7 separate regions of the Homo sapiens genome follow, and regions 1, 3, 4, 5, 6 and 7 are each linked to region 2. Evidence: fine-mapped expression QTL. A gene starts in region 2. Each other region holds a variant in brackets. All regions are shown on one strand. Distances are from middle to middle.

Region 1 (4,434 bases), 160 kb before region 2:
TAGCTTGGCTGGATATGAAATTCTGGGTTGAAAATTCTTTTCTTTAAGAATGTTGAATATTGGCCCCCACTCTCTTCTGGCTTGTAGGTTTCTGCCGAGAGATCTGCTGTTAGTCTGATGGTCTTTCCTTTGAGGGTAACCCGACCTTTCTCTCTGGCTGCCCTTAACATTTTTTCCTTCATTTCAACTTTGGTGAATCTGACAATTATGTGTCTTGGAGTTGCTCTTCTCCAGGAGTATCTTTGTGCCGTTCTCTGTATTTCCTGAATCTGAACGTTGGCCTGCCTTGCTAGATTGGGGAAGTTCTCCTGGATAATATCCTGCAGAGTGTTTTCCAACTTGGTTCCATTCTCCACATCACTTTCAGGTACACCAATCAGACGTAGATTTGGTCTTTTCACATAGTCCCATATTTCTTGGAGGCTTTGCTCATTTCTTTTTATTCTTTTTTCTCTAAACTTCCCTTCTCGCTTCATTTCATTCATTTCATCTTCCATTGCTGATACCCTTTCTTCCAGTTGATCGCATCGGCTCCTGAGGCTTCTGCATTCTTCACGTAGTTCTCGAGCCTTGGTTTTCAGCTCCATCAGCTCCTTTAAGCACTTCTCTGTATTGGTTATTCTAGTTATACATTCTTCTAAATTTTTTTCAAAGTTTTCAACTTCTTTGCCTTTGGTTTGAATGTCCTCCCATAGCTCAGAGTAATTTGATCGTCTGAAGCCTTCTTCTCTCAGCTTGTCAAAATCATTCTCCATCCAGCTTTGTTCTGTTGCTGGTGAGGAACTGCGTTCCTTTGGAGGAGGAGAGGCGCTCTGCGTTTTAGAGTTTCCAGTTTTTCTGTTCTGTTTTTTCCCCATCTTTGTGGTTTTATCTACTTTTGGTCTTTGATGATGGTGATGTACAGATGGGTTTTCGGTGTAGATGTCCTTTCTGGTTGTTAGTTTTCCTTCTAACAGACAGGACCCTCAGCTGCAGGTCTGTTGGAATACCCTGCCGTGTGAGGTGTCAGTGTGCCCCTGCTGGGGGGTGCCTCCCAGTTAGGCTGCTCGGGGGTCAGGGGTCAGGGACCCACTTGAGGAGGCAGTCTGCCCGTTCTCAGATCTCCAGCTGCGTGCTGGGAGAACCACTGCTCTCTTCAAAGCTGTCAGACAGGGACACTTAAGTCTGCAGAGGTTACTGCTGTCTTTTTGTTTGTCTGTGCCCTGCCCCCAGAGGTGGAGCCTACAGAGGCAGGCAGGCCTCCTTGAGCTGTAGTGGGCTCCACCCAGTTCGAGCTTCCCGGCTGCTTTGTTTACCTAAGCAAGCCTGGGCAATGGCGGGCGCCCCTCCCCCAGCCTCGTTGCCGCCTTGCAGTTTGATCTCAGACTGCTGTGCTGGCAATCAGCGAGATTCCGTGGGCGTAGGACCCTCTGAGCCAGGTGTGGGATATAGTCTCGTGGTGCGCCGTTTCTTAAGCCGGTCTGAAAAGCGCAATATTCGGGTGGGAGTGACCCGATTTTCCAGGTGCGTCCGTCACCCCTTTCTTTGACTCGGAAAGGGAACTCCCTGACCCCTTGCGCTTCCCAGGTGAGGCAATGCCTCGCCCTGCTTCGGCTCGCGCACGGTGCGTGCACACACTGGCCTGCGCCCACTGTCTGGCACTCCCTAGTGAGATGAACCCGGTACCTCAGATGGAAATGCAGAAATCACCCGTCTTCTGCGTCGCTCACGCTGGGAGCTGTAGACCGGAGCTGTTCCTATTCGGCCATCTTGGCTCCACTCTCTATGGTCTGTTATTAAGTGAAAAAAAAAAA[G/AG]CTGCTTACAAAACAGAATGTATAGCATGGAACTGATTATACAAAAATTATGCCTATATCCATAAACAATCTGGAAGGCTCTACTTCAAAATGTAAACACTGGTGGAATATTCAGGGCCATGAGTGTACAATGGCCCAGTTTGTGCAGGATGCGGGGGTACCACTTGAGACAATAAGTGGTGGCTGGCATCTTGGCACAGGTTGTGCCTGCTGGAAAGGTCCATCTTTTTCTAATCATACAATGGCATCTTATAGGCTGGTGGGGACTGCAGGTGATTTTCATTTTTATTCTATGTGCTTTCTCATGTTTTCCAAAACTTCTTCAATGAGTAGGTCCTACTTCTGTATTAACTTTAAAAAATGATACATAGTATAACTTTTTTTTTTTTTTTTTTTTTTTTTTTTGAGACAGGGTCTTACTCTGGTCGCCCAGGCTGGAGTGCAGTGGCAAAATCTCAGCTCACTGCAGCTTCGACCTCCTGGGCTCAGGTGATCCTCCCACCTCAGCCTCCCAAATAGCTGGTGCACACCACTACTCTCCCAGCTAAATGTTTTGTATTTTTAGTAGAGATGGGGGTTCACCATGTTGCACAGGCTGGTCTTGAACTCCTGGGCTCAAGTGATCCACCCATCTTGGCTTCCCAAAGTGCTGGGATTACAAGTGTGAGCCACCATGCTCAGCCCCAATTTTTAAGAGATAGATAATTGGTGGAAATTTAAACATGATGGAATATTTGATGATATTAAGGAATTATTTTTAAGTGTGGAAATGGTATTGTGGTTATATTTTTAAAAGTCATTAGTTTCTAGGGATGCATACTGAAAGGTATATAGGTAAAATGATAAAATGTCTGGGGTTGGCCTGGAAATAATATGGGAGGTAGTTAAGTGGGTGGGAGTATAGCATGAGAAAGAAAAGTTGCAAATTAACCATTGTTGAAGCTGGGTGCTAGATGCATGGGAGTTTTTAATTCTATTTTATTGATTTTTGGATAGATAGCAAATTGCCGTAATACAAAGCTAAAATCAAAACAGAAAATTGGTTTAGATCATTGTATTAGTCAGGGTTCCCCAGAGAAACAGATCATATACATATATATATAAATAAGTCACAGGGGGTGATTGATTTTAAGGAAATGGTTCACATGATTATGGAGGCGGGGCCCACAAGCTGGAAAGCCAGGAAGAGCCGGTATTGCAGTTCAAGTCTGATAGCTGCCTGCCACAGAATTCCCTCTACTGCAAAGATTGATAAGCAGCAAGTCTTGTCCCCACTGTGACAAAAAAAGAGGGAAAAGGATTAATTTACAGCGGGAAGAATTGAATTTAGCTGCATGGGAAAACTAAGTGCAGTTGACCCCTGAACAACACAGATTTGAACTATGTACGTCCACATATACATAGGTTTTTTTTCAACCAAACATGGACCAAAAATATAGTACTGGCAAGACATGAAAGCTGTGTATATGGAGGGCTGCCTTTTGGCACTCATGGGTTCCACAGCACTGACTGAAGGACTTGAGTATATGCAGATTTTGGTATATGCAGTGGTCCTAAAACCAATCCCCCATGTATACTGAAGGGACGATTGTACCAGTAAGAGAATGTTCAATACCCAGAGAGATGCTGTATTAGCTAGGATGCTTTCAGCTGTGAGTAAAAAAAAAAAAAAAAAAAAAAAAATTAATGCTGGTTTAAACTATACGGACATTCGTCAATTAGTTAACAGGTAGTCAACAGACGGGAAGTCTCAGCGTTGGTTCAGCAACCAATGATGATATCAAGAAGCCAAGTGCTTTTCAATCTCTGTTTCTTTCCTCCTTTTTATTTTTGAGTAGATTGTTTTCTTTAGTTTTTTAAACTGTAAACCCATTACCTTATGGTTGCAAAATGGCTAAAGAGCTCCAAACATCACAATCTTACGTGTCCACAACCAAAGGCAGGGCGCAGAAGGAGCAAAACAAGAGAGAGCTCTTCTTCCTTCCTTCTTTCCTTCCCAACAAGGAAAACTCTTGGTCAGAAGCCTCTCAGCAGACTTACCTTCGTATCTATTGGCATCTTGTTGGTATTTGATTGCATGGCTGCCTCTAGCACCAAAGGAGACTGGGAAGATGAGCACCTGGTTCTTTCAGGCTCTTTGGGAAGAAAGACAAAGTCTGGGAGTGGCTGCTGTGCAACCCACAAACAGTGGTTGCCATGCTGCCACGGTTATGAAAAAGAGTTTTGGTATATCTTTCCTCATTATTAAAATAATTTTTGCTAATTCTAGAAAAATTGAAAAATACAGGAAGTTACCTATAACTACAAGACCCAAAGAAATCCACTGACATTTTGGTGTCTGAGGACATCAAAATCTTCTTTATTGGGTACATGAAGCCAAGTGGAGACAGAGGAAAGAGGATCTAACCCAGGCGTTGAAGGTCTTGTAGACTTGTGAGTCAAAGTAAAAGGCCCTTCCTTGACTTTAACACTCTTCTCAGGAACATAGAGAGAGGATTGAGATTGAATTTATCTGTTACACATTGTGGCAAGACAAACCACCCCAAAACTTAGTGGCTTAAACAACAACCATTTCTTATTGTTCACGACTGTGTGGGTCAGGAGGTTGTGCCAGGCTCAGCATAAAGACTGTTTTACATGG
Region 2 (4,434 bases):
AGGTTGCTCCTGACCTTGAGACATTAATACTCAAATCTTAAAGTTTTCTGGGCCTCCGTGCTGGGATTGGTCATAGTTCAGTTGTTTCCTGTCTTCTCTCTTCTCTTCCTCTCCCAGAGTGCTCAGCCCAGGTTACCACACCAACTTAATCTGTAACATTTCGGTAAGTCATCTGGGCAGGATCCTTGATCCTCTAAGCCTTATGTGACTGATCTGCAAAAAAGGAGATAATAGCATGTACCAGCTGATAGTTATGGTGGCGATTAAAGGAGATCAGGAATGTAAACATTGGGTGCAGTGGTTCACGCCTGTTGTCCCAGCGCTTTGGGAGGCCAAGGTGGGATGATTGCTGGAGCCCAGGAGTTTGGGATGACTCGGGGCTGCCCAGCCTCAGGCTGGGCAACATAGCGAGAACCTGTCTCTTAAAAAACAGAGAGAGAGAGAAGAAAATCAGTCATGACTTACAATGGAAGAAATTATCATCAGGATGTATTTGGAAATAATATTTAGGTTGAAAGACTTAAGCAGGAATATTATTTCTCATGTCCACTGGAAAACACAGTGACATGACTCCCAAAACCTTCAGTCAACAAGTCTGTCTTACTGTTTCCTCCCCAGATTCTAGGGATATTAGCAATCAACGGCTCTCAAATCTTTACTCTTGGTTAGATAAAAGCTATCTTCAACTAATTTTTCTTCTGATTCAATTTGTCATTAAATACACTGATCTAAGAATTTATCACGCATCTCACTTGTACAATTTCTCCTTTGAAAGCATCGAATTGCAACCTTGTATGTGTAACTGTTCCACACATTCAGAAACGGGCCCCTTCAATTCGCGTGGACCTATCTGCTAAGTGGTGCACAGACTCGCGCTCTGAGCCCGCAGCCACGACCTTTAATGCGGGAAATGTGCATGATCCCATACAGCGCCCATCTCAACAACTAGAGGCTGGGTGCACCCGAGAGGGGTATGCCTGCCTTGAAGATATGGAAAAGTTTTGTTTTCGTTCTTTCCACTCCTTGGACAGTCCCTAGTGCTTGCGCGGAACCGGGACGTCTCCTTTGGACCCGCTAATGTCACAAGCCGCCCGAGCGCGCCGCTGCTGGCCTCCGCCCAGACCCGGATTCCTCCCCCTTCCCGGCGCCCTTTCTCGGGCGCCCGGCCCGCAGCTGGCGAGGGCTCTCTGACCGCTCCGGTGTCCTCGCCCCATTTTACTTCTTGGGTCCCCGCCGGTGCCATCTGGTTGGAACCCTCGGGAGGAACTAAAAGTTGGACGTCGCCACCCCTACCCCTCGCCAAAAAATAAACACCGGGGGCTGCCGAGGCCCGCCAGGAGGAAGGCGACGAGGAAAAAGCGAGGACGGAAGGCGGCCCCGGGTTCGCCCCGGCCTGGGCCGCCCGCTTCCCCACCCCGCGCACCGTACCGTCCCCGGCTCCCTGGCTCCCCGACGGCGAGGAGGGCCGCCGCTTCCGCGTCGGGGTCGGCCGGGGGACCTGCGAGGTGCGGCTGCCGCAGCGGCGCGCCCCGGAGCCTGGCCCGGCATTCCAGTCCGAATAGAAAGAGGCAGGGAATCAAATGGAAAAGCAGGAGGCCAGGCCTGGGCGGGCGAGCTGGGAAGGAGGCGGCGCGGCGGGGCCCGGGAACCCAGCCTGGAGCGCTCTGAGCGGCCGGCTCGGACTCACGCGGCGCGCCCGGGCCGCCCCTCCTCCCCGCGCCGCCGGCCGCGGCCCAGGCTCCCTCGCTCCGCCACTCCCCGCCCCTCCGCGCTCCCTCCCCGCCCTCCCCGCGCCGCCGCCTCCTCCTCCCGGCCTCCCTCTCCCAGCCAAACTGAAAGCCGGACCCCAGGCCGCCGCGCTGCCGCCCGGCCTCCCCGCCAGCGCGCCACCATGGGCAGTCCCGGTTTCCCCTTGTAAAGATGGCGGTGAGGGATCGCTGCAACCTTTAGACTAATGACTGTCCGAAACATCGCCTCCATCTGTAATATGGTGAGTGGCCGAGCCGCCTCGGGGTCGCGCCCGACTCGCGGCGAGGCAAAGAAAGGGAAGCCCGAGCTGCACACACGCCCGGTGGCTGGGGCGGCGGGGGCGGCGGGGTCCGCGCCGCCAGAAGTTCCCGGCCCCCGAGCTGGGCGCGCGGCCGCAGCCACCTCAGCGGCCGGGGAGGGTCCCCGAGCCCCCGGCGCCCGTCTCAGCCCCGGGACCTCGGAACCCGCCCGGCGATCCCGGGGCCGCGCTGCTGCGCCCCCCGCCCTCGGGTTGCGGTGGAAGCGGCTTGAGGGAAGGGAAGCGACCGAACCTGAACGTCCCCGGGGAGGGGGTGGGGGATAAGCTGGAGGTGGGGGGCACCCATCCTCTTCTTGCGGTCAAGACAGCCTTATTGGACGTCCAGACTGCCCTCATCTCATTTTGAGTTCAGTCCTTCCGAGGTGTTTAAAATTCACTTTGCAATAGCAATTGTGTATCTGGAGAAATCGGAAATGTAATAAAGCTGTAAAAAAAGTGCAAAATTGTGGCTGGAGAAGTGAACTTCAACCTGGTTTGAAAAAGCACCGTAATTTGCTCCGCATGCCTCAGTTTCCCCATCTGTGAAAAAGGGACAAGGCTCTGTGGCGGTAATATTTGCAGGCCCTAAGGGTGGGGCGGGCTGTGGGCTTGGAGGAGGTCTCCAGGGTTATCCTGCCTGATCCGCTGTAGACCTAGGGGAGGCTGGCGGGCATGGATACAGCCAGGGACATCACTGGGTTCTGATGCAGTCCGAGCCCATGATGCGGTGGTCACTTTAATTTGGGTTTCCCCCATTGCTTTCCCTTTTTCTGTAGGAAGAACCTCCAGCCCTTGGGTCCCCAGGCTGGACCCTGCTGGCGCCTCCACTTGTCAGAGCCTTTGGGGAGCTCAGATTGGAGTAAGGCATTGCTGTCCCTTGCAGGGTGAGATGATGTGTGTTTTGCCTACATTCTTTAGACTGCACCCCGCCTCCCCTCTAGCCCCCTCCCAAGCGGGTCCCCGGAGGCAACACGTGCTCTTACAGTGCCAGTTTGAGGAAAACCTCCCTTGAAGCTAGTAATACTGGCCCCTAAAGGGAATCCAAGGAAGCTTGATGGAGAAGCCCTGGTGTAAGGTGATCTGGCTGCCCTTCCCCCATCACATAGCTTTTTAAATCTTCTGTCCCACATTCTGTTGCAAGATCAACACATGGCAAAGGAGCATTAAGAAGCCTTGTGTTAGCTCAGGGGTGGAATTGAGACCCGCTGGCTTCAGCTTTCAGCACAATGGGACGTGCCACTGTCACGGCCAGCAAAGCAAATGCTGGGGCCTCCCAGAGTGATAGCTGCACAGGTACTGGTTGGTGCCGGGCGAGTTCCATACGGGGAGTGGATCCTAGAGCCTTTCTGTTTTCTCTTTTTTTCCTTTCTCTGCGAGGAGTCAGATTTCCTCTTATTCCTGTGGAGGGGCTGCTTGTGAAGAGGTGATGCCTTCTCAGTTTCTCTCCTACGACCAGTTCCTGAGGGAACTGTGAATCGGGAGCAGCTTGAATACTCTTTTATGTCTGTTGGTGTGGCCGCAGGCCTAAGGATACTACAGGGTAGTGAGGCTCCGACCCAGCCCTTGGTGGTGTTCTTGTCCTGCTTGTGTGTGGTTACACCTCTCTGTGTAGAAGCAGGCTGGAAACTTGAGAGCTAGCATGCCCCTAGAGGAAGCCAGCCCCCAACCTCCCCCCACGCGTCCCCCCACCCACCCTCAGTGCTGCGGGGGCTTTCTGGCACACCTGGGCTGAATGTCACAACGTGTTTCAGTGAAACTCAGTCAGGGAGACAGGGTGTGGGGAGGACCTGAGAGGAGCAGGCCAATACTGCCCTGAGAGTTGACATCTCAGGTGGAGACCTAAAAAGGTACCAAATTTAGGACCATCACCCAGATGAAGTGAGGAACCAGTAATTCATTAAGTAAGGAGTCTGATGTTGTATTTAGACGCCATGTCTAGAGAGTGACAGAGTTTGGGTTCTAATGTCAGACTTCCTGGGTTCAGGTCCTGGTTCTTTTTTTTTTTTTTTTTTTTTTTGACAAGGTCTCACACTGTCACCCAGGCTGGAGTGCAGTGGCATGAACATGGTGGCTCACTGCAGCCTCCACTTCCCAGGCTCAAGTGATTCTCCCACCTCTGCCTTCTGAGTAGCTGGGACTACAGGCACGTGCCACCATGCCTGGCTAATTTTTAAATTTTCCATAGAGACTGGGTCTCCCTATGTTGCCCAGGCTGGTCCCTAATACCTGGGCTCAAGTGGTCCTCCCACCTCAGCCTCCCGAAGCGCCAAATTACTGCCGTGAGCCACCATACCCGGCAGGTCCTGGTTCTAACACATGTTGGCTTTGTGTCCTTGAACAAGTTGTCCGGTCTTAGACTTTCCTTATCTACCAAAAGGTGATGTTAA
Region 3 (4,434 bases), 240 kb after region 2:
ATATACAAGGGGCTGGGTGCAGTGACTCACACCTGTATTCTCAGCACTTTGGGAGGCCTAGGCGGGTGGATTACTTGAGCGCAGGAATTTGAGATCAGCCTGGGCAACATAGTGAGATTCTGTCTCTATAAAAATACAAAAATTAGCCAGGCCTGGTGGCATGTGCCTGTAGTCCCAGCTACTCAGGAGGCTGGGGTGGGAGAATCACTTAAGCCTGGGAGGTTGAGGCTGCAGTCAGCTGTGATAGCACCACTGCACTCCAGCCTGGGTGACAGAGCAAAACTCTGTCTCAAGAAAAAAAAAAAAAAAAAAAAGAAAGAAAGAAAGAAAAAGAAAAAGAAAGTACCATATACAAGGACTTGGAACACAATGCATCAGTCTCTGGCCAAAAATCTTCCCAAGTTCAGCTTGGGAAGAGGAGATGATTATTTGTAATTCATTTAATAGTATCTGTTTTGAATTCTTCTCATGGTTCCTCCATGTCAGTAAGTATATAACTATACTCCTTATCAATTTTAGAAATTATCTACTAATTTCCTGCTCTGACAGATGAGGGATTAGCTCACCTGAAGCAGTTCTTCTGCCATTCATTCCCAAATAGTTACAACATTCTTTTTTCTTTCCTATGTTGGTTACCTTTGAAACTTTAAATATTTACATCAGTATTTCTTGAATTATCAAATACAGGAATTGTTTCTCAACTTTGCTTTTTATAAGATGAAAATATTAGTCTCCTTACTCTTACTGCAGGGTTTATCTCTCACTTTATCCCCTACTTTACCATTTGTAGTTTTCCACTAACATCATCATGGCAGAAATATTTAGATTGCTTTCTGTGTGCATAATGAAGATTTGTTTAGGGGTTCAGTCTAACTGTACAAAGTTAGTAAATCACGGTTACATTGTTAAGAGTACATACAGATTGCTCATTACAGGGTCAAATAGTTCACTTTGATTACATTTTTCTACCATATGTAGGTTTGTTTTTTTTCTGTTGTTTTGATTGCCTTGTCTCCCCTGCTTTTTGTGTTTATTGCCTTTTTAAGCCTCACACATAGTATCATATCTCTGGAAACAACCTTGCCCCTTGTTTTCCAGTTTCCTGTGTCCCAAGTCATCCTGACTTTTCGTTTACTCTTTCATTTTTCCAGATCACATCCTCAAGTATCTTCTGACAATGAATGTGGAGGAGGTAAACTTTAAGGATCCTTGCAAACCTGACAATAATTTTATTATGTCACTTTACTAATATTTTGGTAACGTATAGAATTTTAGGTTGCGAATAATTTTCTTTCAGTTCTTTGGAGGCATTTCTTATTTGTCTTTTAGCCTCAGTTGCAGTTAATGAGAAGCCTTTTGCGTAATTCTTGTTTATTTGTAAGCGAACTCTTTCATCTTTCTGAAAGCATTACAATTTTTCCTTTATCTCTAATGTTCTGACATTCCACAATGATGTGCCTGGGAATTGTCATGTCAATAACTGCTCAGATGCAATGTAGCCTTCAAACATACTTCCTGGCAGAGAAAGCATCAGTGTACTTCTTCCTGCACGGCTGACAGAAAAGACAGACTCGCAGACCAAATAAAAATGTGGGGATCACACAGCTTATTAAATCAATTAAAAATGTAATGCATAAAGACAAAAGCTAAGGGAAATCAATTATGTAAGTTAACCCTTAAGTAAGGTTGCAAGCAGGGTAGAAGAACCACACTACTGGTCCTGGGTACACAACCTGTATGTGTCTCTCTCTTCTCTCTCCCTCTCTCTGCCACATCAGCCTTCCCCACTGATGGTAGCTTAGTAGGACCAAAGTTGGATAGTGTTTAGGCCAGGGAGCCCAGAGATGGAAGCCCCCCAGGGCCATGGCACAGACTTGCCCTGTTGGAGAGATGCAGGGCAGGTATGTCTGGCCATAGCTATAGCTAGCCAATTAGCCTGCTTAGTAGCTGTGGGTTTCAGTACTGTTTCTTGAGCAGAGGACATGTGAAGCCAAAATGGTGTTGCTAATGGGTAGTTGGATTAGGCCTCTGAATACTAAATACATCTTGTCTTATGTATATTCAGCAATTTCTGAGTATTCACTGAGCATGGTGAATATTCAATATATCATGACTATTTTGTATCCAGGTGCCTTATGTATATTTAATGCCTCATGAATATTAATTATCTTTTGGTTCTTCCATCCCTTCTATGTATAACACAGACATATTCCACTTACTACATAATCTGTACTTAAGATATCTTAAGTGTTTCATTCCCATCCCATTTGTTTTCTTTTCTCCGATAGCAGAATTGCATCTTTTCAAACAATGCAACTGGACATTCTGGTTATTAATCTTTTTTCATTTATCCTGATATATATATATATATATATATATATATATAT[A/TTA]TACACACACACACATATATATACCCATATATATATATATGGATAGACTTTCACTTTGAATACTCATGTCTTATTTCATAAATGTTCGTGCACTCTTTCTCTGACAATTTCTTCCCATCAATTTTTCCTTATTTTTGCTTTCTAGAACCTATATTAGTAGAAAGGTCAATCAACTAAATTAATCATTTCTATTGCTTACCTTTTCACTGCTATCTCCCTATTCTTCATCTTCTTGTACCACTGTTTGGAAAAATTTCTCAGCTTTCTCTTTCAGTTTGTCTATTAACTTTCTGAATTCTGTAACCACATTTTTAAAACAGACTTTATTTTTTGAACAGTTTTAGATTTACCAAAACATTGAAAAGACCATACAAAGAGTTCCCATATACCATGTACCCCATTTCTCCTATTAGTAACATCTTACATTAGTAAGTGACAGTGGTCACAGTTGATAAACCTATATTATATTGATACATTATTATTAACCAAAGCTCATAGCTTATTTAGATGTCCTTAGCTTTTAACTACTGTTCTTTTTCTTGACCAGGACCCTATGCAAGCTACCACATTACATGTAATTGCATTGTCTCTTCAGGCTCCTCTTGACTATAGCAGTTTCTCAGACTTTCCTTGCTTTTGATGACTTGACTGTTTTGAGGAATACTGATCAGATATTTTGTAGGATGGCCCACTATTTGAATTTATCTAATGTTTTTCTCATGATATTACTGGGTCAGTGAGTTACTGGGAGGAGGATCACAGTGGTAAAGTGCCATTTGCATCACGCCATGTCAATAGAACATTCTATCAACATGATTTATGATGTTTGATGTTGACCTTGATCACCTGGCTGAGACTGTGTTTGTTAAGTTTCTCCACTTCAGAGTTACGCTTTTCTTGCTCTTACCCTTTCCACACTGTACTCTTCGGTAGGAAGTGACTATGCACAGTCCACACTCAAGGAATGGGAATTTATGTTCCCCAACTTGAGGGTGAAGCATCTACATAATTTATCTGAAATTCTTCTCCATGGGAGATTTGTCTCAGTAACCACATTTTAAATTTCCAAAATTCCATTCTTGTTCTTTGATTGTCTCTTTCTCACAGCATCCTATTCATACATGCTGTATCTTCTCTAATTTTTCTGACAATATCATTGTAGGATTTTGGCAGCAAGGACCTCTTTGGTTCTCTAAATTTCTGTTTCCTTGACAGTTTGCTTCTCTTAGTCTTTCCCTGACATTACAGTTTGTTTTCAAATTTCTGGAGACCCTTGCTTACTTATTCATATTCATGTCAAAATCAATAAACAGCAGGGCTCAGAGCTCTGCCTAGGGGAGTAGAGCTTATTGGCCAACGGGCTTCACTTTAGGATGAGTGGGAAGGGAGCTGTCCCTTCTGCTGGTAGCCCCTCTTAACATCAGAATGCAGTTTATTGGAGACATTAACACTCACACTAACTATCCTGGTTAATCTTAGACAGCATGTTTGGTCTCATTAGAGAATAACCTTCTTCATGTTAGTGGGGTTAGGGATGCTGAATGCCTGGCTGCTGGCCATTCTGAGCACTGGATTGGAGGGGTTGCTGTGGGTCATTTTGTTCCACAGACTGACCATTAAATAACACTCCAATTTTATACCTCACTCCTCACTCTTGTTCTCCATTGAACCACGTGCAGTTTCCAAGTCTGGAGTGTCCCTGGGACTCTAGCAGGTAGAACCCTAAAGACACTCCAGTCTCTCTCCACACAGGGCAATGGGTCTGGATGTGGCATGCTCCACCCTGCTTCAGTGGTCAGTGCTCTTTCATCTGCTTCCTCCCTCCTGGGAACCTGCTGAGCACTCTCCTACTCTGATTGGCCCCCTCCTGTCCTTGCTGTTATTTCTTGGCATCATTTTAGTGAGGGAGAGGAGAGAAGCATTATGCCATTTGTCACCTTGAACACGGCTCTACTTGTTTTAATTATAAAAGTATGGTGAATTAATTAAGGTAGGCTAAATAACTGTAACAAATTAACCCTAAAACATATAAGATATAGTAGCAGCT
Region 4 (4,434 bases), 350 kb before region 2:
TGTTTTAAGAATTGAGGTATATCCCACCAAGCTCGTGTATTTATTCAAGAAGCATTTATCTCCTGTTATATGCTTGGCATTGTGCTGGAGTTCTGGAGGTGGCTAAGACAGTCCTTCCTGGAGCTCACGGGGGAGCCCAAGGAGCCCTAATATCATGTGATCTGTGCTATAACAAGGACTATAAACACAGAGGGCTGAGGCAGCACTTGGAGAGGGTTGTGCCTATGAGGTTCTTGATAAATGCTGAATAAGCTGAATTCAGGGCCTTCTCAAGGTGAGTGAATCACCTTTGTGTATTGCAAAGGAAAACTAAGAATAGTGTCTTGGATGACAGGGAAGAATAACTGTACAAATAAATGTTACATACCACACTTAAAAATGTCAACTTGGACAAGGCAAGTAAGGAACACATGGATTTTAGGTGTGGCCAGTGAAAATCAGAGACTCTGACTATAATCCCTTTCTAACCTCCCCTTCAGTGCGTAACTAACACTGTTTTCACAAAAACTCTGAAACTTTCTTTTCCAGGCTTTTATACAAGTTGTTTCTTTTGCCTGGAACAATCACTGCCACTCCATCTCCATACCAACTCCTTTCACCCTGGAGGAAGCCTCCTCTGTCTCATAGCACTCTGCACTTCCACATCATAGCGCCTACCATACCATAATGTAAACAGGTCCACCCATTTACCTCCCTGCATCCCCTGCACATGGCAAAGGGTGTATGTCTGTTTTTCTCCGGGACCCAACACATGCTCAGCACCTCAGGCTTAATAAAGATGAGTTAACTCAAATTAGTTAATTTAATTCCAAGTTGCTCTCTCATATAGCATCTCTGTATGGGACTTCAAAATACCAGATATTTTTTAGTTGACCCTTTTTATTTTATACTGAAGCCTTTTCATAAGATGGGAGGACTATAAAATCCCTCCCCTGCACGGAATCCAAGCAATAATACCTTTCCTTCAGTGGTAAACATGTGAAGCTTCTTGGAATTTAAAAAACTATTTTTTAATAAGGAGATATACAGTCTGGGATCTGCCCTTGAGCCTGATTTCTCATCTATAAATGAGGAGATGGGCCTAATGATCTCAGAGGACGTTCCAGCAAAAGTTATTCTCAGAAGCCATATAATAAATGTTATAAAACTACCTTATTACTGCCAACATTTCACATAATATTAAGATTTTGAAGAGTACTCATGAGTAGTTTTGACAGAAATTGTAGAGACTATCTCCCCACCAACCTCTAGAACATAACAGCTAAATGATTTTCGTTGACTAATTGAATGAATGAGGAAAAAAAGCCACATGGCAAAATCCCAAGTAATAAAAAAGGAAATATTCTCACAGTTGAAGGAATTTTCAAGAAGGAAAGGGAGAATTGTCTGCAAGGGTACAAGGTGACATTTATAGTGAAAGGAATTATTTAAGTTCTTCCATTATTTATTTACACAGGAAAGGGCCCATGAATTTACAGTGAAAAACTCTTCTAATAAGGGAATTAAGGCTATGAAACTAACATAGCTGTATTTACCAGTACTTGATAAATGTCATCAGCTAATGATTTGATGAGATATCTTTGTAACATTTAGTCACAAGGAGTCCTGGGAAAGTACTGTAGGTGTAAAGGAAGAATGGCCTATTCTAAGCAGATTTTGTTTCCTTGTCTCTATTAGATGGCTGTTTTTCTGGAGCTTCTAACAGTTTTCAAACACAGAGTGCAAATGTGTTTGTTGTCAGTGAGGCCGCCATTTGGAGTTGGTGCAGGAGCTCTGCAGCTCCTTTTCTATGTAACAGTGGAAGTGTGGTGGAGTTCAGTCTAGCTAGGGCCCCTTCCTGTCATAAATAAGATTACTTTCATTTCACTTGTGGAGTGTGCT[A/G]TTCCTCAGAGTAATGAATTTCCTCTGTGCCTTTGAGCATATAAACATGGTTTTCATTAGCTTTCTCTCTCTTAAAAAAAAACACACACACACACACACACACAGAAAGGAGGGGAGAGGGAGAGGGAGGTAAAAGAAAGAATCTGAGCAAAATTAATAAGATGTCAATTAACTCCATAAATGCAGATGCCTTTTTTGCCGACTGGCTAGAACATGCTGATGAGCAGTACCAGAAAAGCACTGGTTCATCTCTCCTGAAATGCTAAGAAAATGAAATGGGGTAGAGAAAGGTAAAAATTTTATCCTACATGAACAAAGGAATGAAAGAAAAATAAAGAGAGAAAAGAATATTCTTTTTTGAATCTTGCTGTTAGGAGAACTATTTCAAACAGGCCATGAGAGTGGCCCCTCGGACCAAATAGCCAGCCCTGGGTTCTTCTGGAATTATGGGCACTTCACAGAGGACCAACCTATTTGACCAGGATCACAGTGCAGCCTCTGCCTCCACTTCCCTGCCTTTTGTGTGTGTGTGTGTGTGTGTGAGAGAGAGAGAGAGAGAGAGAAAGAGAGAGAGAGATTTTATGCTAATAAGGTATCCCAGCCTTTCCCTATTTCAAATTTACCCCTCTGTGACTTGTAAGCCATGCAATTCGTAGGGCTAAATATGCAGTTGTTCGATTTCACGGTTTGGAATCTCTTGTCAAGGGGTGAGTCATTATAACACGGCTGGGCTTTTCTCATTGTTGATGGTGCATACTTGAACCTGAAAACTATTTAGGATCCATTGACCCTTTGACTTCTGCCAGGATCTTTCTTGCTGTTGTTTTTGGAAATTTGTGGGGCAGGGAGTAGGGGGATGGAGTCCTCTCAAATTAACCCATAGAAGGAGTTAAGCTATTAAAAAAAAAAAAAAAAAAGCCTAAAACCTGGTTTTTCAAAATTACTTATTCTCAATGAAAAATCCCCAGATTTGTGTTCCCAGAACCTTTTCCTCTCCCCACAATCAATGTCGGTTTCAGCCTCCAATTCATAGTATATTATGTACTTGTTTATCCTCTAGAGAGGAAGAAATAATAATGTTATGAAGGCATCAAGGAATTAAATTCCAGGCCACAGGTTGTCACTGACAATTCACTGCAGACCAAACTTGTAACCCAGATAAAGAAGCTTGAAGCGTTTCACAGTGAGGTGTCTTCCAGCTTTGACCTCCTGGATAGGTGTTCTTGTTACAGTTTAGAAGTGCAGCTGGTTTCTATTTGAAATGAGAAGAATGGAGTTATTTAAGGAGCCAGTGCCTCTCATAGGTGAAATCGGCTTTGCTGAAATGTACACAACACACTACAAGGAACCTTAAAAACAAACTTCCATTTCACTTAGCTGCAGCACAGGAAATTGTTTCTGGCTTGTTTTTGTTGTGAACAGAGAGAACACTGCATATTAGAAATTCCCTGTAGTTGTTTAATATTTGCTCAGTAGTGTCCTGGTTCCTAATCAAGTCCTTCTTCTCACTAAATCCTGTCAACTCTGTCACTGTTTTGATTGGAAGCATGAATTGTAACACTGAAAAATCTCTCAGGACAGTAAACCTCTGCAGCTGTGGAAGGCTGGAGCTATTTACTGGTATTATTAAAGGAACCTGAATGACTTCTTTGGGGGGGAAAAAAAAGCAAAGATGCAGTGAAATTCATAAGGTGCACAGAGATTTAGGATGAAGGTTTTATTATGAGCACAGCCTCATAATACTATCCTCATAGAAAGAATACAGAATAGTAACAATTGTTTCATGAGTTGGCAAACATAATATTCTGATGTCTGCCTTTTTTAGGGGGAAAATAAAGTCCAAATGTAAAATATGAAATCAGACATAGCTAGTGCTTTGGAACAGTGTTTGAACTGGATGCTTTTTCAAGGTACGCTATAGAAACAAATGTCACCTTTATTTCCTGAAGGCATTTTGAAGAGTTTGCCGTTGGTCTTTTAAGGCATGAATTTTCTGGAACAAAAGAGGTGCAGAAATTTTAAATTGTCACCATTCTAAGGACATAACTGATTACACTACCTGCTGCTATGTATTTGGGATCTGAGGAACGTCCTGAGAGTGTAAAGACATATGTTGGAGAGGCTGGACCGCGCCCCCCAGCCCGGCCCCAAAATGGGAAAAGAAGCAAAAGGAATGAAAACTTTCACTTGAGAGAGGTGACCAATACCATACCTAAGATGTTTCTCTTCCAAAATGTTTCTTTGTTCACTTATTCATCCTTTATTCAATGATTTATTCGTTTCAGAAAAGTTTATTGAGTATCTACTGTGAGCCCAGAACTGTGCCAGGTACTGGGAGGTCTAGTTTAAAGGCAGCTTGCCCACAAGGACAGGGATTTCCGCCAAGAATGTTCTGTCCTCATTGCTATAGTGTAAGAAGCAGCTGGATTCCCAAGTCAGCCTTGACATTCAGCAGAACTTAGCGTGTCTGCCTCTAAAAGCACAAACCTGTTTGCTAGACTGTTCTTGTCATTGCCAATGTATTTACTATTGTGTAAAAGTCACGTTTTGAAT
Region 5 (4,434 bases), 100 kb after region 2:
GGATTATGTCCCAACTACTTTGATGAGCCTCGCTGTGGCAGGCCCTGCTGGTTGTCTTCCCCCTAATTTTTCCAATCCCCCTTTCCCTCGTCTGTTTTCCACTATAGAAGCTGAAAAGGCCAGATACTCACTTTCCCAGCACCCTCCCTGTTTCATCTACCCTCTGCTAGGATGGCTGTGTGATTTGCTCCTGGTTGATTTGATATAAGGGGAAGTTGGCTGGTGGGAACTTCAGATAAATGTTTTTCTCTCTGATAAAAGTTGAGAGCACACAAGAGGAAACTTTGGTGTTCTTCTTCTTCCTGCCTTTGGATGTGGCATGAGAAGCTTGAGAGGGTGTGATGCGTGGAGCTATTACAGCCATCTTGTGACCATGAGGCATTCAGATAAAAAGCCAACATTCTGAGGTTGGTGAAGGAGAAAGATAGCAAGAGGCTAGCTGGAAACAGCAACATATTCCAGGGACTGCTCCCCTCTGATTTTCTCATTAAATAGACAACTTGTCCTTAGCATTTGAACCACTTTTTTGGGAGTGCAGCTGTTTTCAGTCAAAAGCAATCTTAACTGATGCACAAGCCAGGTGCCTGGCACAATGGGGTTAAATATATATATTTATTGGATAAATGAATAAGAGAATGAATAAATGAAACTCCTACCTTTACTACATCTGCCTACACTCCAGCCATCCCTGAGTGTTAACAGGACCTCATCTGGAAGACTTAAAGGCTGGGCTGGAATCATTTGAGAGGACATTCACTCACTTGGCTGATGCTGGGAAGGGCCAAACCTCCGGAGTATGGAACAGCTGGGGCTCCTTGGGCATCTCTCTCTGTATTTCTGTTGTTTTCCCACATGGTCTTTTTAGCATTACAACTTCAAAGTGCTAGACTTTTTACAGGGTGGCTGAGGGCTACAAAGGTGTGCACTTCACGTGGCAGAGAGAGAGAGAGAGACAGCAAGCCGGGAGGAATGTGTGTCTTTTATATGACCTAGCCTCAGAAGTCACATAGCATCACTTCCGTTCTACTGTATAGGTCTGAGCAGTCATGAGGCTCTCTAGGTGGAAAAGGAGAAGAAATGGATTCCCATTCTTGATGGAGAGGGAAGCATCTGGAAAGGCATGTGAAACTGGAAATATTGCCATGGCCATTTTTTTTGTTTGAAAATCCAGTTTGCTACAGTGCCTCATATGCATCTCTATTCCCATATTGACCATCTTGATGTCATTAGTCTCTTTCATGTCTACCCTACTGGCTGAAGGGTGCAAGTACCTGGAGGTTTTAATCTGTGTTTTATTCACTTTAGTATCTCTGGCACCTTTATGAAGATATGTTTAATAAATGCCTTATTCTAACCACTCTGAACCTCATTTGTGTGTGTGGAGGAGGAAGCCTCAAGGGTGATGAGAATTTTGACTTCAGTTGCACTGTCCTTGCAGACTCTAACATTAGGAGTTTGTAGCTCTTTAGGGGGTAAGAGAACCACAGGTAAAGCTGGAGTTGATACTGACCAAAACTTGCTTTCCTACCTGCCATGCTCCATGGCAGTGCTGTCGTAGAGGAGTTTCTGTAATGATGAAACAAATGTTCTGGCCCTGTGCTGTCCAATGTGTCACGTGTGGCTACTGAGCACTTGAAATGTGACTGGTGTGATTGAGAAACTGAATTTTACACTTCATTTCAAAGGATTATAAATCATGCTGCTATAAAGACACATGCACACATATGTTTACTGCGGCACTATTCACAATAGCAAAGACTTGGAACCCCAAATGTCCATAAATGATAGACTGGATTAAGAAAATGTGGCACATATACACCATGGAATGCTATGCAGCCATAAAAAAGGATGAGTTCATGTCCTTTGTAGGGACATGGATGAAGCTGGAAACCATCATTCTGAGCAAACTTTTGCAAGGACAGAAAACCAAACACTGCATGTTCTCATTCACAGGTGGGATTTGAACAATGAGAACACTTGGACACAGGGTGGGGGACATCACACCTGGGGGCCTGTCATGGGGTTGGAGGAGGAGAAGGGGATAGCATTAGGAGATATACCTAATGTAAATGACGAGTTAATGGGTGCAGCACACCAACATGGCACATGTATACATATGTAACAAACCTTCAAGTTGTGCACATGTACCTTACAACTTAAAGTATAAAAAAAATTATTTCCGTTTAATCTTCAATCACATATGTGGCTAGTGCTACCTTGTTAAACAGCTCAGCCCTTGAAATGCAGGTTTGACAATTCTTTCCCTCCTTCGCAAGACCAACCACTATTGGCCTTTCATCCCTCGGCAAAAGAAACAAAGCCACAAAGATTTTTTTGTGTCCCTTCCCGCTCCATGCCTCCCACCAAAACACGCCTTTAAA[T/C]TCCTGAGACAGCTCTTAATTGCTGGTTTCAGCAACGTTCCCCTTCTATTCACATTCTGTTCTCATTTCACTGTTTTTGTACCCAGTTGGTCTTGACATATAAGGCTTTTTGTTCTCGTTTTGTCTTCTACCTGGAAAAATAGTTCCTGATGTCTATTCTGTATCTCATACACTAATGTCATTATCTGTGTTGAAAGGCAGTAGATATTACTGAAGTCAGTTACCATTTTCATGCACTTTAATGCAACCCTCCCTTAAACATTCCTGTTGTTGATTGTGCTCACCGAGAATCTTTAATCTGTCCTCTCCAGCCCCCTTGCTTAATCCCAGTTGTCATTCTCTGTATGCTTCCTGTTTGGCATGTCCTGTTTTTTATTAAACTGTCAGTGGAATGTTTTTGCTTTTATGTGGCTTTTGGAGAGTAATGAGTTTTGTCTTTTTCATAGTTTGGAAAGGGGGGTGGTGGTAATCTTAACTTTATTGACAAAAGTGTGTATAGCGTTGTAACGTTGTTAGACCAATATGAAAGTAAAAATAAATCTGTTTTCTTCCCTAAACCCAGAGGTACTGCTGTGCAGAGAGTTCAGGAAGCCTGACTGGGGCCCTGGAGCATTTACATTTGAAAGGCAAACTTTATTTTCATAAAAACAAATGGGAAATTAGAATATGCAGTGCACTAGGGATCTAGGTTTTGTAGCAAGGGCATTTAGGCTGCTCTGGAAAGAAGCCACGGATTGCCCAGGGCATTTGTAAGAAATGATATTTGCAGGTCGGAACAATGTGATAGCATCATAGCTGGACTTAACCCAGTGAATGGCAACTATATGCATGGAGGGAGAGAGAGAGAGAGAGAGAGAGAATAAATGAATGAATGAATTTGTAGAAGACAGAGAATTTGGTATGTTTTATTCATTCTTATGCTGCCAGCACTCATCAGTTCATTCACCAACTATTCAATACCAACCAACCAACCAGAAAAGCTGCTCCCAAATTCTTTTCTCACAGAAATGATGAGATAATAAATGTGTACTGTTGAGCTGTATTGTATCTCCTCATAACACTTCTGACCTCAAAGGTATGGAGGTTTTCCACACCAATAACCTATTTTCTGATTCTCTGGACACCAGCGGGGCATTCAATTCAATTCCTATTATGAGTCAGGCACTGTATCAATGAATAAAATAGATTGAGATTCCTGCCATTGTGGAGCAGAAATTCTGGCATGGAGTTGGGGGGGGGAAGAAAGACAACAAAAGGCAATAGAGAAGTAAATCATAGTATGTAGTAAAACATAACACATGTTATGAAACAAGAAAATGTAGAGCAGAATAAGGGATTGGGAAGACTGCAATCAAAATTGCAATTTAAAATATGGCAGTCAGGCTACGCTTTCTTGAAATGATGATATTTGAGCAAAAACCCAAAGTGAGCATAGATTAACACCTAGAACAGTGCCTGGCACAAAGTAGGTGCTTGGAAAATATGTGTTAAATGAACAAACAAGCAAACTCTATCCATCCTTCCGCTCAATTCATGTACCCTTCAGGTGAGCCTGAGATGAGCTGTAGGAATCCGCTGCCCCTCAGCAAGATCTCACTCCTTGATGATCTCTCCACAACAAATGTCTCCAGTGTTCAGGATTTTCATACATCTCAACTTCTGTTTGTAAGCCATTTTCATCAGGTGTTCAACTGAGATTCAGTGACATGTTTTAAAGCTACAGGAAAAATTGGCCTTATCGAGTTTACTGAAACATGCATGTATACACAATTATTATCTCCAACTGGCACTTTTTCAAGGCATGTGGAAGCAAATCCTGCAAAATACGTGCCTCTGTACATTAAACTGAATATTGCATGTGTAGGGTCGGGGAGCAGGGGTGGGGGAAATTGGGGAGATTTGTGGAGATGGGTTAGAAAAAGCAAGCTACTTTAGCTTCATGATTTTGCGTGGGGCCAGTCCTGTGGGAAGGTTTCATTAATGAACATTCTCCATGGCACTAAAATTATTTAATTTCATGGTGATCTTACAGCTCTTGTTTTAAGACTTGAGG
Region 6 (4,434 bases), 49 kb before region 2:
ATGCTTTCCTTTCTCAGTCTCCTCCTCCATTTCTCAGCCTCCTACTTCCTCATCTTCTTCCATGCGGGCAGTTCTTCCTATTGACCACCATGACTCTGCCTCTTCTTTCCAGCCCTTGCTTGTACTTTAGTTCTAGCTCCATCATTTACTTTCAGCATCATCCACTGCAGTAGCCTCCACCTTCATTCAGCTTCCCTGTCTCCAGTGTTCCCTTCCCCATGAATTCTTCCACACTGCTGTCATCTCCATTGGAAATTGTTAAATGGCTCTTTACTGCCACCAGAAACAAAACCAACCTCCACCTATCTACTTCCTCCTCTCACTTCCCACATACCTATTATAATCCAACCATGCTGAACTAATGGCAGTCCCCTGAATGCTGTCCAGCACTCTCCCATACAACTTTCTGCAGTGATGGAAATGTTCTATATCTCTGCTGTCCAGTATGGTAGCCACATGTGGCTATTGAGTACTTGAAATGTGACTAGCACAACACAAGACCTGGATCTTAAACTTCATTTACTTTTAACTAATTTAAATTTAAATAGTCATGCTGGGCCTGGTGGTGGTATGCCTATAATCCCAGCTACGTGGGCAGAAGTCTGAGGTGGGAGGATCCCTTGAGGCCAGAAGTTTGAGGTTGCAGTGTGCTCAGACAGTGCCTGTGAATAGCCACTGCACTCCAGCTGCCGCAATATAGCAAGACTCCATCTCTACAGAAAAAAAAAATTAGCCAAGCATGGCAGAACAGGCCTGTAGTCCCAGCTACTCAGGCAGCTGAGGCAAGAGGATCACTTGAGCTCAGGATTCAAGGCTGCAGTGACCTATGATGGCACTACAGCACTCCAGACTGGGTGACAGAGCAAGACATCTAAGATAAATAAATAGATAAAAATAAAAGTCACATGTGGCTGGTAGATACTACATTGAACTGCACAATAGTTTACATCCTTGCTTCTCAAAGCGTGGTCCATCAGCCTGGGCATTCCCTGGAAACTTGTAGTAATGCATAATCTCAGGCCTCATCCCAGATCTGCTGATTCGGAATCTATATTTCAACAAGATCCCCAGGTGATCTGTATGCACATTAAAGTTTCAAGAGCCACAGCTCTAATAAGCTCTTGCTTCCTTGCCTTTGCATGTGGTGTTCTCTTCGTCTGGGCTGCCTGTCACCTGTTCTTTTTTCCTTAACTCCTACTTATCCCTAGACCTATCTACACTCACAACCTGCTGTTAATATGGTAATCCAGAGGGTAGGGGATGAAGGATATGGGGGAGAGGAGTGAGAGGGAAGGAGAAAATATCTATGATAAAACCACTTGTATCTTGTAATCTTAAATAACTATATGTATGTAGCTATATAATATAAATACATACATACTATGTATATATTTATAGTATAGTATGTATATATGTATAGTATTCTATGTATATACATGTACAAGTATAGTTTGTGTGTGTGTGTGTGTGTGTGTGTGTGAAAATATGGTTACTACAATGTCAGTGGTATTTCTCTCAAGGTGATGGGATTTCATGTGTCTTACTTTCTAAAAATATTTTTGAGGTATCATTCAAATTCTTTACAAAGAGCATGTATTACTGATATAATAATTTTCATTACAGAAAACAAAATAAGGGCTATATTAGCCTTTTGTAAGTAACTTCAAGAACACGATATCGGAATAAAGTATAGCGTTTTACAAAAAAGGAGAGCCCCCACCTTCCACAGTTAGAGACACTCCCTTGTCTACAACACAAGAGCGGGCAGTAGGCATGGCATAGGCAACAACCAACCTGAAAGCAGAAGAATGATCTCTTGTGATGCCTCCACTGCTGTCTCCTGTGTCTACCCT[C/T]CCACCCCCACAGCAGACATGGTCCTAGCACCACGACAATCACCTCTTCTCCATCCCCTGCCTGACTCCTAGCTAGGGCTGGAGTCTGAAAAGGGGCCTTAGGTGTACAGAGAAGGTCACCTGGAATCACTAGAAGCATCTGCAGAAGTATATGGATATGTTGGGTGACTCAGATGACATCTCGTTTGGTCCTTAGCATCAAGGTTTTGTTCTATCAAATATTCTATTAAGAACGAATGTTTTCATTTTTTGGCTATTGTATTTCTTTTCTAAATTTTGGCAATTTTTTCTTTACTGAAAAAAAGATGACAATTACCTGAGAGGTTATTTTAAATTCATGGCAAAATGTGTTTTGCTGAGCTATGGGATGCAATTTCTGCAGATCTTAGTGTGCTCAGCTGTGGAAGTCAGTTATAGGGTATAGAGTTCTGGTGGTAGGGTAAGGCCCAAAAAGCCACCAGAATGAATAGAGGAGACAACATAGCCTGGAGCCAAGACATAGTTTATATTCTGCACAGTAACTAATTTGCAAAAATAACAGGATGTTGTGAAATTTGATTAAGCAGCAAGGTGAGGGAGGCATTTTGGGGGGTTAGATCAAATTATTATTATTAAGGGTATTGTACAAGTTCCAATTCAATTCTAAAGATAGAAGGAAATTTATATTCTTTATTTTAAAACAAGTTGGCTTATCTAAATAAGTAACAAACTCAGTGTTTTATTTTATTTATTTATTTATTTATTTATTTATTTATTTATTTTGAGACGTGGTCTTGCTGTGTCGCTAGAGCTGGAGTTCAGTGGCACGATCTGGGCTCACTGCAACCTCTGCCTACCAGGTTCCAGCAATTCTCATGCCTCAGCCTCCTGAGTAGCTGGGATTACAGGCGCCCGCCACCACGCCTGGCTAATTTTTGTATTTTTAGTAGAGACGAGTTTCGCCAAGTTGGCCAAGATGGTCTCAATGTCTTGACTTCGTGATCCACCTGCCTCAGCCTCCCAAAGTGCTGGGATTACAGGCATGAGCCACTGTGCCCGGCCCAAAATTCAGTGTTGCAAATCATCCTTTTGTACATGTATGATCATATTTATAATTCTATATCTATTTATCAATCTACTACTGGCAGCACCCACCTCATGTATTGGCGGCTCCAGAGGTGTCATGTGACTTGGATACCGGAATGGAGCCAGCCTTTGTGAGGTGTGAAAGCTTATACAATTTGGGTGGTCCTTCTTCTTAAAAGAAACAATGCAAAATTTTACAAAAATATGCAACCCCATGGACACATTGTTAGAGCCCCTCTTGGGCCCTAGGTGAGGCCCATGCAAATAAAGAAATTGACACCTAAACTTTACTTCAACAGTTTTAGGGTAAATCTACCTTGGCTGCTCAGATGCTCTAGAAAGGGGAATTGTTGGCTATCCTTTAATACCATCCTTAGCACAGCACAGCTAAGGAGGAAACTCCATGCTTACACAAGGGCTTCTTCCTTAATCATCAGCAACGGCCCAGTTTACTGTACACCTAGTATTTGTGCCAGGCACTGTTCTAAGCTTTTTTTTTTTTTTTTTTTTGCATTGTCTCTTTTGATTCCTCATACTAACACTGAGATATATGTACTAGATGATCTTCATTTTACAGATAGGAAACTGAGACCCAGAGATATTGAATAACTTGCCCAAGAAGAGGTACCCACTGAGTGCTGAAAAACAGGCAGAGGTGGGAATGGGTTGCCAGCTGTTGAATTCCTGGGTCTGTGCTATCTAAGAACAGTAGCAGAAAGAGAGGCCCAAGCCACCAAACTGAGATTCAACAACCTGACCTCTGCTGTGGGGTGAGCTTGTTGAAAGCAGGTAGGACTATAAGTGACCTGATAGGTCACTAGGAGAAAAATCCAGTTTCCAGAACTAGACAGAAGGTCTCAGCCAAATACGGGGAGTTGGGGGTAGGGAAGCTTGCTTCTGAGCCCCAGGAACCTCCACTATATAACATAAGATTGGTTTTAGAGATTCAGAGATGAGGGGTCAATGGGCAGAAAGGTTTCCTGACGTCCACAAACTCAAAATAAAAATTGCCATTTGTACACTCTGAGCAGCCACAAAGCTCTCTGGACAATAAAGCTGCTGAGAAGTCATCTAGGAACAGTTTAATGCCACCTTTCTCCACCCTCTTTGGGATAAATATACATCACATGCTCGTCCTCTTTTTTAGTCTTGCACACAAACACATTAATCCCAATGTCTTCTTCAGACCTGCATTTAAGTCACTTTTTTTCCCCAATGTTGGAAAGCCCTAATAACAAAACTAAACCCCCCTTAGTTCTACCCTCTCTAATTTAATTTCATTTGCGTGGTAAAAAACCAGCATATTTATCGTTGATAAATATCAGAAGAGAGCTTCAGATATCCCTGTATAAAGGGAGAGGGAAGTAGTACATGTTAATAGTGAAATGGAGTTAACCAAGAACTTGAAAACAACTTGTATTTGCAATTTATTTGTGCTTTTTAATTTCTACTTTTTGTATTTATTGATGATTATTTGTGATTTATTATTTATTCATTGCGTTTTGTTTTTGTTTTT
Region 7 (4,434 bases), 41 kb after region 2:
ATAAAGTGTTGAGGACTTAGTGTGCAAGAAGACCAAATGGGAAAGATTTCCTTCACCTGGATGAAAAACAGGGAGCCTCTTTTGAGTAACACCCTTTGCCTAGGGCAGACAGCCTTTAGATGGTGCTTCAGTCAGAATTGCCAAGACCCATGTTTATGAAGTCTCACTGTAGGATTAAATGGCACTAGATCCTGAGCAGCAAATTTGCCCCTGGGGGCACCTTGCCATTGTTGCTGCCTCAGCTGCTAGTTCCTTCAATCCTGGAAAACCTTTTTGCCAGCCTTCATGCTTTCAGAAAACAATGATTTTCTTTTTCTTTTTTTTTTTTTTCCTGGGTCTCACCCTTTGTAAATGTTGCTTATGATTGCAGTGCAAATGTCAACTGAGGGATTTATGGAGACAGTTTCATTCTGCAATAGACTTGGAGAGACTATTTTAAGGGGTAATTCATTGCTGACTTTTCCAGATAACCTTGATAAAGGCACTTCAGAATTGGGTCTTGGGGATTTTCCACTGTAGCCTTGCATGCTCCCTTGGTTATTCTTTTGTTTGGTTCGTAAGATTTGTTAGCCCAGTTGGAGCTTAATTTTGCCACTGTTTATTTTAATTTTCCCTCTTTCCATTTAAGCTGAGCTTTTGCTCTACAAATCTCTGATTTTTCCGTGCTTCTCAGTGGCTTTAACATGTTTGTATCTGTTACTGGAGCCAAAAGGTTGTTTTAAGAACTGCTTTATTAAGTACCAATTTTACAGCTCCTCATTGCTTTGTTTGCAGAGGTTCAAATTGATTCAGTAGAGTTTCTGAGGCTTTCGCAGATAGGAGTAGGGCTGGGTAATGGAGGGAGGTGTGATACTCAGTGGAGATTCTGAGTTCCAGAGATTCATTCAAATTGGTTGTAGTTGCACTTTTCCAAAGCCCACCATTGGGTACCTTTTAAAGCCAGCACATTTTCGGCTCATGATTGAACAGTGCAGAACAGCCACCTCATCACCTTTTCTACTGAACCCAAGAAAGGAATATGGGGATTTAGAAGCTGACTTTATTTATTTATTTATTTAGAGTTAGGGTCTCTCTCTGTTGCCCAGGCTGGAATACAGTAGTGCACACCACCATGCCTGGCTATTCAATAAGATTTTTTTTTTAGATGGAGTCTCACTCTGTCACCCAGGCTGGAGTGTAGTGGCGTGATCTTGGCTTACTGCAACCTCTGCTTCCTGGGTTCAAGCGCTTTTGCTGCCTTAGCCTCCCGAATAGCTGGAATTATAGGCTCCTGCCACCATGCCTGGTTAATTTTTGTATTTTTTAGTAAAGACAGGGTTTCACCATGTTGGCCAGGCTGGTCTTAAAATCCCGACCTCAGATGATCTGCCCACCTGAGCCTTCCAAAGTGCTGGGATTACAGGTGTTTTTGTAGAGTCTGGGCCTCACTATGTTGCCCAGGCTGGTCTTGAACTCCTGGCCTTAAGTAATTCTCCCACCTTAGCCATCCAAAGCACTGGGATTATAGGCGTGAGCCACTACTGTGCCTGGCCTGAATATGATTTTAATTACTTAAGAATTTAGCAAAGCTCATGATTTATAAGGTATACCCTTTCTGTAATCTATTTTACTAACTGATTTGTAGTTAATTACTTTAAAAAGAATATTAAATGAGGTCTCTTTATGCTTTTAAACTAAGAGTTTTTGAGAGACCTCCATGCTCAAAATTGAGGGAGAAGAAAGGAGAATAAGATATAGCTTGTACTTGCTAAGAGTATTGGAGTCTCTTAGTGATAGATGTTTCCTTGGAGACAAGCTGTATTTTCAGTTAGACCAGAATGAGATCCTTGTGTGTGGGAAGAAAATGGTTTTCTTTTCTGGCAGCTTTCTTAGAAGAGAGAGAAGCAAGAAAA[C/A]CCAACAACAACAAAAAAACCCCACAGAACCCCCAAACCAACACCCTTCCTCCACGCCCCACCCCAAAAAAACCACATTATTTGATCATTAATTGCTTTTGACTATGTCATTCTAGGGCAAGGAGAGAGAAAAATCCAAACGGAAAGCTTTTGCGCCATGTTTTGATAGCCCCTGCAGGGGTGATTCCTCTGAGCAGTGCTTTCACACACTCTAATTCTAGTAGCAGTTTGCATTTGGAATTGAGAGAGGTACAGTGACTTTTTTCAGTTAATGAATTATATTTGTTCCATTTCTCCTTCTCTCCAAAACCATTAAGTTCAGAAAAAGATTTGCATCCAACAGGACAAAATGTTTTTGTTTTTATTACCTTCTTTGTATAAGAGCTTAAGTAGAATGAGATCCTAGCTATCTAATTTATTTATGGTTTCAGTTGGCTATAATCCTCTTATTTCAGAGAAGGGCCATTTAGGTTAAGAAAAAAGTTCTGCTAATTAAGGAACATACTGTGGATTATTTTTAAAAATTAGAAACAGAAATGAATAAAAAAGTCATGATTCTGCCACTCAGATGCCACTGTTGTCATTTAGATATCTTTCCATTTGTTCAGTCTTCTGTTCAGTTATTACTTATTTAGTAAATATTTATTTCCTATTAAATGCTGGGAATTATTTTAGGTACTAAGGATATAGCAGTTAAAGTAGAAAAATGGTCCCTTTTGTTTACTAGCATACAGATATAAAGCTATAAATTTCCCTTTAAGCATTGGTTTAGCTGCATGCTACAAATTTTGATGGTATGTTTTCTTTGGCATTAGTTCAAAATATTTTCTAATTTCTCCTGTGATCTTTTTTATTTGATCCATACACTAATTAGAAGTATGCTGTTTAATTTCCAAATATTTGGGATTTTCTTATATATCCTAATAGTATTGATTTCTAATTTTGTTGTGGTTAGGGAATATATTCTGTAAGATTTCAGTTTTAAATTTATTGAGATATGTCTTATGTCCTTCCACATGGTCTGTCCTGGTAAATGTACCATCTGCCCTTGAAAACAGGGTCTCTCAGGCAGGCACGGTGGCTCATGCCTATAATCCTAGCACTTTGGGAGGCTGAGGCGGGCGGATCACCTGAGGTTGGGAGTTTGAGACCAGCCTAGCCAACATGGTGAAACCCTGTCTCTACGAAAAATACAAAAATTAGACGGGTGTGGTGGCCCATGCCTCTAATTCCAGCTACTTGGGAGGCTGAGGCACAAGAATCACTTGAACTCAGGTGGCGGAGGTTGCAGTGAGCTGAGATTGCACCACTGCACTCCAGCCTGAGTGACAAAGCAAGACTCCGTCTCAAAGAAGGAAAGAAGGGAAGGAAGGAAGGAAAAGGGAAGGGAAGGGAAGGGAAAGGAAAGGAAAGGAAAGATCTCTTAGTGTCAGAACTATTGACATTCTGAATCAGATAATTCTTTGTTGTTGGGGACAGCCCTGTGCATTATAGGATGTTAAGCAGCATCTCTGGCTTCTACCTGCTAGATGTCAGTAGCATCTCCCAAGATACAACATTGAGAAATGTTTCCAGACATTGTCAGATGTCTCCTGGAAGCCAAATTTCCCCTGTTGAGAACTACTTAGTTGAAAAGAATATTTGGCAGTTGTTGGGTGTGGCATTCTATAATTGTTAGTTAGATATGTTGGTTGATAAAGTTATTCAGATCCTTTATGTCTTAGTTGACTTTCCCCCTACTAGCTTTTCTACCAGTTGCTGAGAAAGGAGCATTAAAATATTTTTGTGGGATTGTTCTGTTTCTCCTTTTAATTCTGTCAATTTTTGTTTTATGAATTTTTTGACTTTTTAAAAACAACTTTGGTGAGGTATAATTTACGTGCCATAAACCTATCCAGTTAGTGATTTTTTTTCTTTAAGTAATTTGCTGAGTTGTGTAACCAGTACTGTAACCTAGTTTTAGAAAATTTTCATCACACCAGTAAGATCCCTCATGACTGGCAGTTAATTCCTGTTTTATTTGAGGTCACTACTAATCTACTTTTTGTCTTTAGAGATTTGCCTTTTCTGGATGTTTCATGTAAATGGAATCATACAATATGTGGTCTTTTATGTATGACTTCCTTCACTTACATAACGTTTTTGAGATTCATTGGTGGTGTAGCATGTATCAGGAGTTTATTCCCTTTTGTTGGTGAAATAGTGTTCCAGCTTCATGTGTTTTTGAGGCTCTATTATGGGGGCTATCCATATTTGACTGTTGTGTTTTTCTGATAAGTTGACATTCTTATCATTAGGAAATGTCCTCTTTTATTTCTCTTAATAACTTTATCTTAAAACCTATTTTATCTGATATTAGCCCTCTACAAACTTACGCTAACTCTTCGCATAGTATGTCGTTTTTCCAACCATTTACTTTCAACCTGTGTCTTTATATATAAAGTTTAGCTCTTGCGGACGGCATAGAAATTGGTCTTGCCTTAAAAAAACAAATACTTCCTTCAATTTTTGTCTCTTACTTGTAATTATTAGTCCATTAATG

Evidence for each region. PIP is the estimated chance that this variant, and not a neighbour inherited with it, causes the effect.
Region 1: its variant is fine-mapped to the expression of USP46 in whole blood (INTERVAL, PIP above 0.99).
Region 3: its variant is fine-mapped to the expression of USP46 in whole blood (INTERVAL, PIP above 0.99).
Region 4: its variant is fine-mapped to the expression of USP46 in whole blood (TOPMed, PIP above 0.99).
Region 5: its variant is fine-mapped to the expression of USP46 in tibial nerve (GTEx, PIP above 0.99).
Region 6: its variant is fine-mapped to the expression of USP46 in whole blood (TOPMed, PIP above 0.99).
Region 7: its variant is fine-mapped to the expression of USP46 in whole blood (TOPMed, PIP 0.98).

What each region holds. Positions count from the first base shown.
Region 1 is chr4:52,813,786-52,818,219 of GRCh38, reverse strand. It overlaps LINC01618 (long intergenic non-protein coding RNA 1618), which reads right to left. Exons shown (of 5, transcript NR_040106.1): 5 at 2,756-3,067. Among named protein-coding and RNA genes, the nearest start is that of LINC01618, 26 kb to the right of the region's middle. RefSeq lists enhancers at 827-1,431, 1,432-2,037. The variant G/AG (reference allele first, on the strand shown) is at 1,794.
Region 2 is chr4:52,656,671-52,661,104 of GRCh38, reverse strand. USP46 (ubiquitin specific peptidase 46) reads left to right here and starts at 1,804. Exons shown (of 9, transcript NM_022832.4): 1 at 1,804-1,990. The coding sequence starts at 1,955. USP46-DT (USP46 divergent transcript) reads right to left here and starts at 1,699. Exons shown (of 2, transcript NR_125363.1): 1 at 1,429-1,699; 2 at 1-213. RefSeq lists silencers at 1,391-1,820, 1,831-2,350.
Region 3 is chr4:52,414,056-52,418,489 of GRCh38, reverse strand. No RefSeq gene overlaps it. Among named protein-coding and RNA genes, the nearest start is that of USP46, 240 kb to the left of the region's middle. The variant A/TTA (reference allele first, on the strand shown) is at 2,388.
Region 4 is chr4:53,010,366-53,014,799 of GRCh38, reverse strand. The region is part of intron 5 of SCFD2 (sec1 family domain containing 2); the gene reads left to right. Among named protein-coding and RNA genes, the nearest start is that of SCFD2-AS1, 85 kb to the right of the region's middle. The variant A/G (reference allele first, on the strand shown) is at 1,882.
Region 5 is chr4:52,553,454-52,557,887 of GRCh38, reverse strand. No RefSeq gene overlaps it. Among named protein-coding and RNA genes, the nearest start is that of USP46, 100 kb to the left of the region's middle. The variant T/C (reference allele first, on the strand shown) is at 2,382.
Region 6 is chr4:52,705,284-52,709,717 of GRCh38, reverse strand. No RefSeq gene overlaps it. Among named protein-coding and RNA genes, the nearest start is that of DANCR, 4.9 kb to the left of the region's middle. The variant C/T (reference allele first, on the strand shown) is at 1,854.
Region 7 is chr4:52,615,197-52,619,630 of GRCh38, reverse strand. All of the region lies in intron 4 of USP46 (ubiquitin specific peptidase 46), which reads left to right. Among named protein-coding and RNA genes, the nearest start is that of USP46, 42 kb to the left of the region's middle. The variant C/A (reference allele first, on the strand shown) is at 1,893.